2 separate regions of the Homo sapiens genome follow, and region 1 is linked to region 2. The links come from fine-mapping of genetic effects on plasma protein levels. Region 2 holds a variant in brackets. A gene starts in the other region. All regions are shown on their reverse strands.

Region 1 (5,331 bases), not on the chromosome of region 2:
GCACTGCAGGCCGACCGGAGGCTTCTAGCTCGCGCCGGGTGCGTGGGCCCTCCCTGGCCGCCTGTGCCACCCCGCTGCGCGAGGCGCGGAGCCCGACCACGCCCGCGCGGACGGTCCCGGGGTGAGGAATCTCCAGTGGGGATTGAGGGTAGAGGGCGGCCGCCAGCGAGCTGCCCTCCGCGGATGGCGCCCAGCCTCCCCACGCTGGTGCCCCTCGCAAGGAGAGGTGGCCGGGAAAGGCAACGGACTGAGGAAAGCCGGCTCACTGGCCGCGTCGCCACCGCGTCCCTGAGTGCTCAGAACTTACCGAGCGAGCGCGCCGCCCAGATCTTTTCCCGGAGGCGCCCGCAGCATCTGCGACTCGGGGAGGCAAAGGAGCCGGCACCGCCTCGGACTGGCGCAGCCCAGGAGCGAGAGCACCGCGGGGAGCGCGGGCGGCGCCCCCAGGGCAGGCAGATCCCCACCGAGCAGCTAGCCAACGGGCAACGCTTCTTGCAGGAAGGAGGGAGGGAGGCGAGAGGGAGGAGGGAAGTAAAGCGGGAGGGAGGAGAGGGGAAGAAGGGAGGGAGGAGGGAGGAGGGAGGGAGGAGGGAGGAGGGAGTGAGGAGGGAGGAGGGAGGGAGGAGGGAGGGAGGGATCGCGTCCCCCCTCTCCCTCACTTATCAATCACCCCACAGATCAAATATCCGGGCTGTGCACCCAGGACGGGGATGTAAGAGCCCACAAAGGAGCCGCTGCTCCATTTCTCTGACAAGCGCTGCGGAGCACTGCTCACGCCTCTCGGTCCCTCTTGCCTGGAACTCTGCCCAGCCCTTGCGGCTTCCACCCTGGGCTGCAGCTCGGGCTCGGTCAAGTGAAATAAGAATGGCACACGGTCGGTACCATGTCCAAGGGGAGACTAAGACTACTGGGTGGAAGTTAACGACAAGTGAAAGAGCAGTCAGCCATCCGAGCTGGACACCCTCCGGGACAGCTGCCTCCCCTAACTAGTAAGCGCCCAGTCTTTGGGAGTTCGCAGGCAGATATTTAAGAACCTCCTACGAGGATCGTAAACAAGGACTTTCAACATAAGATAGAGCTGAACTTGAGTTGTGCAAGTGTGTTAACAAAGCAAGCCCTTAGCAGCGTTCCAGTGCCCATTTTGATTCCCTTTATTCTTCACGACGACGTTGCCTGGATCTTCTAGAGCGTGATTTTTGCCATCCTCCCTTCCCTTTTCTCCTTTCTTCTTCCTCTTATTAGTAGTCCAGGTGGTTGTGATTCTATTAAAGGAAGGCGCTCTGTGAAAAGAGTCAGTGTAGTTCAAGAGGGAGGTGCGGTTTTTGCCAAGAGCATTGCGTTTCCCCTCAAGACTTGCTTTCTCTAGGGCCTCTCCTCTACTCTTCCAGAGTATTCGAGATAAAGTTGCAGTTTGATAAATTTATGCCAGGAGTAGGGAGTTCATTTGATGACACTAAGTCATTTTCCCCTCCATCCTGTAGGAGAACGTCATTAATTCAAGTCGTTGCCACCCCCTATCCTTTTCATGCCCGCTAGAGTCTGCAAAACCCCAAATCCTTCTTACTGTCGAAAAGCGTGATGGTGGAGAGCAGACGGGGAGGCGAGGAGAGAGGTGCAAAATTAGACGCAAAATTACCTCTCCAGCTAGTGGATCTGCATTGGAATTTGTCTGTTTCCATATTTCCCATGCCTTTCAACTCGTTCTCACAGCACTGACAACCACCTTTTTCTTGTCCTTCCCGTGGGAATCTTTTGTGCTTCTCCTGTCCTCTCTTCTTGGCTTTCTTTCATAATGGTTTTCTAAGGAGATTATGCTGGGCTTTTTAAAAAGAAAACTACTGGCAATCTTATATTATGAAGATGTACAGAGTTTGCTTTAATAATAGTCGGAAGAATTATAATCGTATCTTCGGAGTTGTAAGGGTCATTACTGTTCCTTTTATTTCATTCTTGAGAAAGCCTTTTTGAAATCTTCCTACCATTCAGATAAGCAACTTCGGAATAACATAGTTCTCACATAAGCACGTGGGCAGTGTATGTACGGTTATATATCCAGAAGCATTGCTCTTCTTTTTACAATATCTGTATTAGTGTAAACATCCAATGTGCTGTTTGCTACAGACTAAAAGCAGTGCACTGAGCACATCATATTATTAACTAAATGAGGTCAGTTAATACTGTTACTTCTGTCTTTACCGTATTTCTGACTGTGTCATCTTTTCATGTCGCTTTTAGTAGATGTTATAAACAACTGCAAAACACAGAGCTAAGAGGCCATTCCAATACAGAAATAATGAGACAGTCATGCTGAAAAACTCAGACAGTTTACTAAGAAGGGTGATGTGTCTGTAGCCAAAGGGAACATACAAAATAAGCAAAAACTTCTATACAGAGTAGAGAAGGAACATGGCATTAATGATGAAAAGTGATACTTTATTTAGATCCAGTAGTAACATGTAATAGATGGCATGCATCAATTTTAATTAGCCTTGTAAGCAAGTCTAACCTGTTCACCAGCCTTCGAAAAGCATTTAGCAGCCTGCCTTTCCACATGGGACCACACTGATAGTAAGACAAAATTAAAAAGAGCAGACTTTTCTTTTTGTCAGCATAAAATTTTCAAGTAGGTGGATAGCTGTGCTTTGAATGCACAGACACGAAAATTGATGAGCAATATAAAACTTTCTGAGAGGGTTTTGCATAGACAGTTATAATGGAGGAGAGTTTGAAGTCTGTGAAAAATTTAAATATGCCAATTTATTTGAAAGCTGCTTTATGCTGAATTTTCTAAAAGCTTCTGTGTTAGAGGAAAATTTCCAAATAGAATTGAATACTAGAGACACCATATTAATGTACTTCTGTTCATTAATAAAAATCACATTATTCTTCTTTATACTAGCACTGTAAATGTATCTTTATATCCATGTGCTGTTTTCTTTTTGAAAAACTTTTATTTTAGGTTCAGGTGTACGTGTGCAAGTTTGTTATATAGGTAAATTGCATGTGGTGGGGGTTTGGTTTACTGTAAGCTACTTTCTATTGTGAAGTTCGTGTTACTAAACAACATAGAGATCCCGATTGGAAAACTAGTGGAAAAACAGAGAAATAAAACTAAATCTTGCCTGGGTTTTTATAATTTCATTCTAAGGTTAGAAGAAAACCAGAAATTTCACCTGCGATGAGTGAGATAAAAAGCGCATATGTTTCCAGGATGATGTAAAGGATGTCCTATTACTGTGTAGTACGTAATTTACCTGAGAATGTTGCTTTTTCAACTTCTTCACACCTATCCAGAACTAGAAAGCTTTAAAACATATAAAAGAAGACAAAATGTGCTGCATTTTCAGTGAACATAGTTTCTTTCCAACCAAAGGTTTCAAAGAAGAGTGCCACAGAACAAATTCCTAAATAAAGAAACGCAACAAAGCGGACATGCCCTTAATATTAGTAATTATAGTTTACAGGATATTGTAGACTTTTGTTCCTGATGTTATTGAAAAGGTGGATATTTTTCAATTCAATTCAATTATTTGGATTATTTGGCAGGCATTTTGGCCTGATTGAAATAGTGCTGGGCCAAGACCCAGGGCAGTTTTTCTTTTAATCAAATACATATCCAAGCCCTTGGAGCCCAATGACCTGGGTTCAAATTCCACCCGTGCTACTTTCTCACAATGGGACAAAAACAGCATTACACCAATTTCAGTTCCCCATGTGTAAAACTGGCACCTGCTATGTGGAGTCAGTAAGGATGGGATGTATACAGAACTCTTGAAAATTGAACGGTGGTACATGTATGTGCAAATAAATCTTAAACTAAAAAAATTTTTAACTCACTTCTTAAAATAAATAAGTTATACAAAATATTTTATATCTGTTTTCTATGTTTCTCATGACAATCCTCAACAGGCCAGTATGATTAGCCAGACTTTACAAAAGAGGAAAGTGAGACTCAGAAAATTTAAGTAACTTACCCTTACTCCCATTCTTGGTGAAATGGTTGATTTTAGTCAGAAACCAACATCTTAATTTAAGTTGGATAACAGAATTAGCATTAGAAAAAATATTTATGATTCTAGTTGGAGCCATGTAATGTCAAACATTTAAAATAACTTCAAAAAAATTCCATCTTTCATTTTACAGATGTTTTCAAATAGTTACATATATGTATACATCAGGGCTCAAACTCAACACTGTTGATATATTTGGTCAAATGATTATTTGTTGTGGGGGCTGCCCTATGCAATGTAGAAGGATTAGCAGCGTCACTGGCTTTTGTGTGTGTGTGTAATGTGCATATGTATACTATATATACATACGTGTAATTATATAAATGTAATAAGTAATATAACAATATATAATGAAATATTATTCTATTGTAGTCGATTTTTTAAATGCTTGGCTGTGGCCCACTAAACTGAACTCAGGAGTGACTGTAGATTGCCTCTTACAGTTTGAATAACACTGCCACGCTGGAATGGGCAGGAAAGGAAGGAAAATGGGATAGAAAGGAGAAAAGAGGCAGTAGATCAAGAGGGGAAGTACAGAAATAGAAGGAAAAGACAACTGCATGTCTTACAAAGTTATAGAAAGACTTATGGTGCCCCCATCAATTACACCAAGTGCCACTTATTAATGATACCTGTTCTCTAAGGGCTCTGGCTCTCCCTCTTTTTTGACTGAGTCCAGTGATTTATCAGTAAGAACCACATTTAAGCTTACTAGACTTGGGAGCACATATACATGGCAAAAGCCACAAATTTAACAGATAAGGCTCAGGACAGCATTAGTAGGTATTTCATCTATCCTGACACATTCTATCTTATGAATTTTGCTGCAGCTGGAAGTCATATTTTGGTTTGGAGTTACAACCTAATGTGTTCAGGAGGAAGCCAAATTTATTAGGTTTGACATTGCACTTTATTGGAATGGTATAATGCAGTTGAGCCTCTGTAATAAGTTCTGTTGATTTTATTTATGTATTTATGTTTGGCTAGTATAAATATATGGTAAAGTATGTGCTGTGGTAGAGAGTTTAATGCTGACTCTGCTGGAAAATTCAAAAATGTCTGCATAGAAGATGCCCAGTTCTAAAGAGTTACGGTCAGAGGAGCAGCTACTCAGGATTTGCACTAAGTAGTTCTGATTTTTAAAAATGTCATCATTTGTGAAGAGGACTAGTCTATTAATATGAACAAAATGGCAAGGATGACATACCCCAGATCTACCTGAAGTTGTGATTTGCACAAAATGAAGCAGAGTTTCAAAATTGTAGGTTTAGAAATGAGGCAAGTAAGATCTAGAATGTAAATAAAATCATTTCCAGTAATA
Region 2 (5,381 bases):
CAAAAAAAATTGTAAGAGAACAGCATGTACAAGTAGATAACAATACTTTGTAAAACCTAGAGAAAGTGCACAATTTTTTAGTAAAATACAAATTTACCTAAATTGACCCAAGAAGAAATCAAAATCCTGGGTGACCATGAGAAAAAATTGGAAAGACTTTGAAGAACTTGCATTAAAAAAGAGCTAAGGCCAGGTGGTTTAACACCTGAATTCTATCTAACCTTTGAAAAACAGATAATTTCTGATGTTAAAAATATTCCAAACCACACTAAAAATGGGAAAAAAATCAATTTATCTCATGAAGTTTATATAAGGTTAGTATTAAAAGTTAATAATGACAGCACAAAAAGATAGACTAGAGACCAGTCTTACAGATGAATATAAATACAGAAATTATCAATAAAATATTAATGAATAGAAACCAATGTAACCAAAAAAGTTACAATGACTAAGGCGGCATTACTTGAGGAATGGAAAGTTGTTTCAATATGAGGAAATCTATTAAAGTCGTCCACTATGCCAAAATATTAAAAGATAACCATAGGATTATATAAGTAGATGCTGAAAACTCATTTAATAAAATTTGAGATATTCCCAATAAAGACATAAAGAAAGAAAAAGAAGAAAGAGAAAGAGGAAGAGAAACATTTTTCTTAACTGGGAAACACTAAAGACATTGGAATTAATCTTTAAAGCCACAGTGATCTAATTTTTGTGACACACACACACACACATACACACACTGCCAGTGGAGTAGGAATGGACTAATAAACCAATGGAGCGGAATAGGGAATCCAGAAACAGATCCTACCATGAGAATTTAAAAATATGACAAAGATGATACTTTAGTAGGATGTACTTATTGTCCCCTTCTCCTCCAATAGAGACATCCCTTGCCTCGCTCATCTCTGAGTCCTGGACCAAGCATCTCTTTGCAGGGCAGTGGGGGTACAGGCAAGGGCTCTCGTGTGTCTCAATCACCTTTCACCTGTTCTCCCCAGTTCTCTCTTGAACCATCGGCAAGAGAATTCAGGTCTCAGCTCTTGTTGACTTTCTCAGCTCTCCCTGGCACTTAGACTGGCACAACTGTCTATCCATTTGGAAAATAAATAAGTTGAGCCCTTATGCTCTGTACAAAAATAAATTTCATACTTGGTTGAAAACTTTTATGTAAAAAATAACAATAATTATAAAAGCCATAGAAGAGAGTTCTTAGAGACTACATATAGAATCGAGGTGTTGGGTAGACCTTCTTAAGAAAAAGGACATTAATACAAAAAAGAAATTTTTGAAATACAAAAATTTGTAACTTTTATATGGTAAAAAGTATTATAATTGAAACCCATAAACAAAATAACAGATTTGGAAGGAAGTATTTGTGATACAAATAGCACATAAAGTATTAACATCTATAAAAGAAATATTCTTAAGAAGAAAGGCAACCCAAAATTAACTGGACAAGCAAATAAATAGGCAAAAAACAGAAAATGAACTAAATTCTGGCAAGTATATAAAATGATGTTAGAACTCCTTCATGGTCAAGAAATTGAAAACCAAAATAAACAATTAGATACCACTTCACACTCACCAGACTAACAAAATGAAAGCAAGTGTAATGGCTGGTGCAGATGTGGGAAAGAGGTGCACTCATGCATTGCTGGTGGAAGTGTGAATTGCCATAGCCTTTTTAGAAATCAATTTGGCAATATCTGTTTCAAGTAAAACTACCCAAAACTTCAAATTTGGAAATCTATCCTCTAGAGAGAAAAATTCTGGTCAACTGAGACAAATATAACAATATTTATTGCTGCATTGTTGGTAGTGGTAAAAGAAAAACAAACAAAAAATGACCACCTATCATGGAGGGATGGGGAAGAATTTATGATATACCCCTACGGTGAAATATCAGATGACCTCTGAAAATAGCAATCTAATTGATTTGGAGGGACTTTATGAGGTCAGTTGGAGAATTTCTGTGAGATATTGTGAGCAAGAAAAGATGTCTATACTGTACAACCCATTTCTGATGGAGTGGACTATATGTATGGAGAAAAATGTAGAAGGATCTATCCCAGGTCATTAATCAAGGTTGTGGGGAAGATGGGTGGGGTAATATGGGTAAGGAGGAGGAGAGAGTGAGAAAGAGGTAAACAAAAAGAAAAAGAAGAGAGCATGGACTCTGGATTTGCACCGTGTGGCAGCCTCTCTGAGGTTTTTCTTCATCTATGAAATGGAGATAACAGTAGGAGTCTCGGCAGAGAGCTGTGATGATTCGTACCTGGCACTCAATAGTTAAACTTGTTATCGTCATCATCAGGTCATGGTGGTTATTCCAGAGTCCAGGGGCACCTGACTGTGCCACTCCCATCCGTGGCCAGTCCCAGGCCAGAAATCTCAGGCCTGAGGGGCTCCACCCACCCCTAAGCTGGGTGCCCCTCCTGGAAAGCCCAGCTGCAGAGGGGTTCATGTACTCTCCTCCTTTCTTACATCCCCAAACACAAGCCCACAGGTCCTTGCCCTTTAAGGCTATTATTGCTCCTGATTAGAAGGAAGTTGGCAGGAGGTAAGGGGCAGGGAAAAAGCTGGGGCCATGACCAAGGCTCTAAAATCTCATCAATTTTGCCT[C/A]ATCTCAGCCCCCTAGTCTCCAGTTCTGGATACATTTTTCTAGAGGGTACCTGGAAGCCCCTCTGAACTCCTAAGGCAAGCCTCCCTCCGCAGTCTCCCCTGGGTCTGACTGACCTCTCCTTCCTGTACTAGAATCTATGCAGATGCCTGTCTGCCTCCACCTGAGTGCTATGCTGGATGGACAGCCAGAGGAGTCCTGTGGCTGCCTCTGTGTCCCTTCTGAGATAAAGGGCCTGAACCAGGGCTTTCCTTCCTAAGAGACCCTGGGTTGGGGCTGTTTTCAGTGAAGTCAGCCTGTAGCTCTGGCCACAGTGGATTGAAAGGGACAACGGGTACACAAGCAGAGGGCAATGGCCCCTGGGCCAGAGGCAAGCAGGGCCCTTTTCTTGTTTCAGAGTTTCCTCCTGATCGCGGTAGGAAAACTCCCACATAGACCAATACAGAAAACGCTCTTAATTTAGTGAAAGGGTTTCGTTTTTCTCCAACCACTGCCTTCAACCTTTTGAATCTACCTCTCCAATCTCTTAACAACATCTTGGGCAGAAACTAGAGCCATCTGGTCACTTTGGGTTATAATTTTTGTTTAATCCAGTCTTAGGGCGTCTAGTTTAAAGCATTCATCTCATATCCTTCCCCTTCCCTAGCTCAGACCTGCCCCCGGCCCAGGACACCTGCAGGCAGAAGGGTATGTGGCCATTCTTCCACTCCTCCTCCACCTTCTCCCCACCCTCCTTTCCCATTGAGTCAGGGCTGGGAGAAACACTGGGGGAAGGGGCCAGTGTCTCTTGCCAACTCGTGCTGCTGTGCACCTTCCTGGAGTCAGCACCCTCTGAGAGGCAGGCATGTGACCAAGTTTGCTCCCTTTCCTCTCCTGCCTGCAGTGACACACCCCACAATCTCTTGGGTGAGGTGTTGGGAAGGTAGCACCAGCCAAGCTGCCTTTTCAGGATCCTCTTGACCCACGGGACGTCCACTTCTTTCCCACACCAAACAGGGGAGTAGGAGCTGTACCTCTTCTACCTCCTCCCTGCCTACCATCTCCCTCCACTCCCCGCCCCCCTTCTCCTGTCAACATAGATGGCTCTGGTGCCCCAGTGTCCTAGTAGGAATCCACTCAGGGCATGAGACAGCAGTCACCCATTTCCTAGGGCCCCACTGTTTTCTTGGAGACCCGTTCATTTGACTGGGGGAAGAGTATAGAACACTCCTCCTCTCCTCTCCCAAAAGGAAGAGAAGTCACAGTACTCTGCCTCTATGTTAGCAATTCACAGCCCCAAAGAACTTGTATCTCCTGCTATTGCAGACTGGTAGTGCTGGAGTGATGTCCTGAAAGAATGGATCCATCGGTCCCATTTAGGAATATGCAGATATATAGCACCTATAGATTTCAGCCTTGGTTCTTCCAATTCCAAGAAAATGGGTGGAGTCCCATTTAACAAATTATTACCAAAAAAACCAAAATAGGTCCTCTGCCTAATGACATTGAGTTATGGGTTCTCTAGGAATCTGGTGGCTCAGTCTAGTCTCAGAAACCCTGGGATAGAGGGAAGTTGTATCAGTTGGAGAGACATCCCAAGCTACTCCATATTCACATGTACACTCATAATAACCCTGCACCGCAGCTTGTTTGTGCCTGTCTCCTCTTGTGACCTCACAAAGCCTGATCCATCCAGGCTCCCCATCCCTGTGGGTGCCCTGCCCCACACTGATAGCCAAGATCCCTGGGAGGTCGGCCTGGGTGTCAGCGGGTATCTCAGTGCTTCTGCCCTTTGCTCTGGTTAGGGGAACCTTGGAGGCAGCTGTCCTAGATATAAGATATGACCCTCACGTTCTGGACTCTTTCTGCCTGGGTCCTCAGCACACCAGCTGCCGCAGGCACTCGCCTGCCATCCCCAGAGCAGAAGACCACACATAAGATGACATCACCAGCAGGTGCAGACGGGGCCTACCAGGTGTGCAGCCAGCCCTGCCTGGGGAAGGCCTTACCAGATGGGAGGCTTCTCATCTGTCACTGTGGCAGTGCTGATGGCACATCTTCAAATGGTATCTCTCTGAAACTAAGAGATGGCCGTTTAGCTGCAATACACAAACCCAATTTGGGAACCCAAATGACACCACCTGAGTCTCCATGGCAGGAATTATGGCTCTTGAATCAGGCACAATCTGCAGAATAAGTGAAATCGTCAACACAGGAAAATGTGTTTGAAAACATGATGTGATCTATAGTTAAAGCTTGTAAATTCTGCATCCACCTCAGAAATATTCTACTTCCAGAGCAATTTCTTCACTAACTAGCTGTCTCTTAAATGGACTGTATGTCTTTTTCATTACGGCATCTGCCCTGCCTCCGTTGGCAGCAGTTCCCAGCTGCTGGGCCCGTGGATCTCTCACTCTAAAGCCAGCACTACCCCAGGTCCCTGATCAATTCCCCTGCCTCAGCCCCAAACCACTAAAGGCTCCAAAAGAAGCCTTCTCTGACACCCTCAGGATGTGTTGCTCCCGACCATAGCCAGACTGCAGCTATATCTTGGAACCATGAACCCCAGCTCCTTCCAGCAAGCCCCTATTCCAGACACCCTCTTTAGCCTCAGTGTCTGTGCCTATATTGGTCCCTAATGCAAACTCACAGTCCAATAATTTCGAGTGCTGAGGGCTCAGCATACCTTGCTGGCAACATTATCCCCTGCAACCTGCCATCTAACTGCCATGTGGATTTTTGAGCACCACCTACTGGATTCCCACCATTGTGCCACACT

Alleles and levels. Positions count from the first base shown, and alleles are read on the strand shown. Strength reflects both the effect of a copy and how common the allele is.
In carriers of allele C in region 2, the plasma level of the protein whose gene starts at base 505 in region 1 tends to be lower than with A alone (weak association).

What was found. A credible set is the group of variants that fine-mapping cannot tell apart. PIP is the posterior inclusion probability: the model's chance that the variant is causal. Protein levels are from antibody-based Olink assays in UK Biobank. Linkage for the fine-mapping came from a reference panel and not from the study's own genotypes, which makes the PIPs less certain.
Region 1: it holds the start of SLITRK2, and the variant in region 2 is the best candidate, but not a certain one, in a credible set for the plasma level of the SLITRK2 protein (UK Biobank, PIP 0.62).

The regions. Positions count from the first base shown.
Region 1 is chrX:145,813,003-145,818,333 of GRCh38, reverse strand. It overlaps SLITRK2 (SLIT and NTRK like family member 2), which reads right to left and starts at 505. Exons shown (of 5, transcript NM_032539.5): 1 at 308-505.
Region 2 is chr11:11,251,786-11,257,166 of GRCh38, reverse strand. The region is part of intron 1 of LOC124902631 (a long non-coding RNA gene); the gene reads left to right. Among named protein-coding and RNA genes, the nearest start is that of CSNK2A3, 99 kb to the left of the region's middle. The variant C/A (reference allele first, on the strand shown) is at 2,626.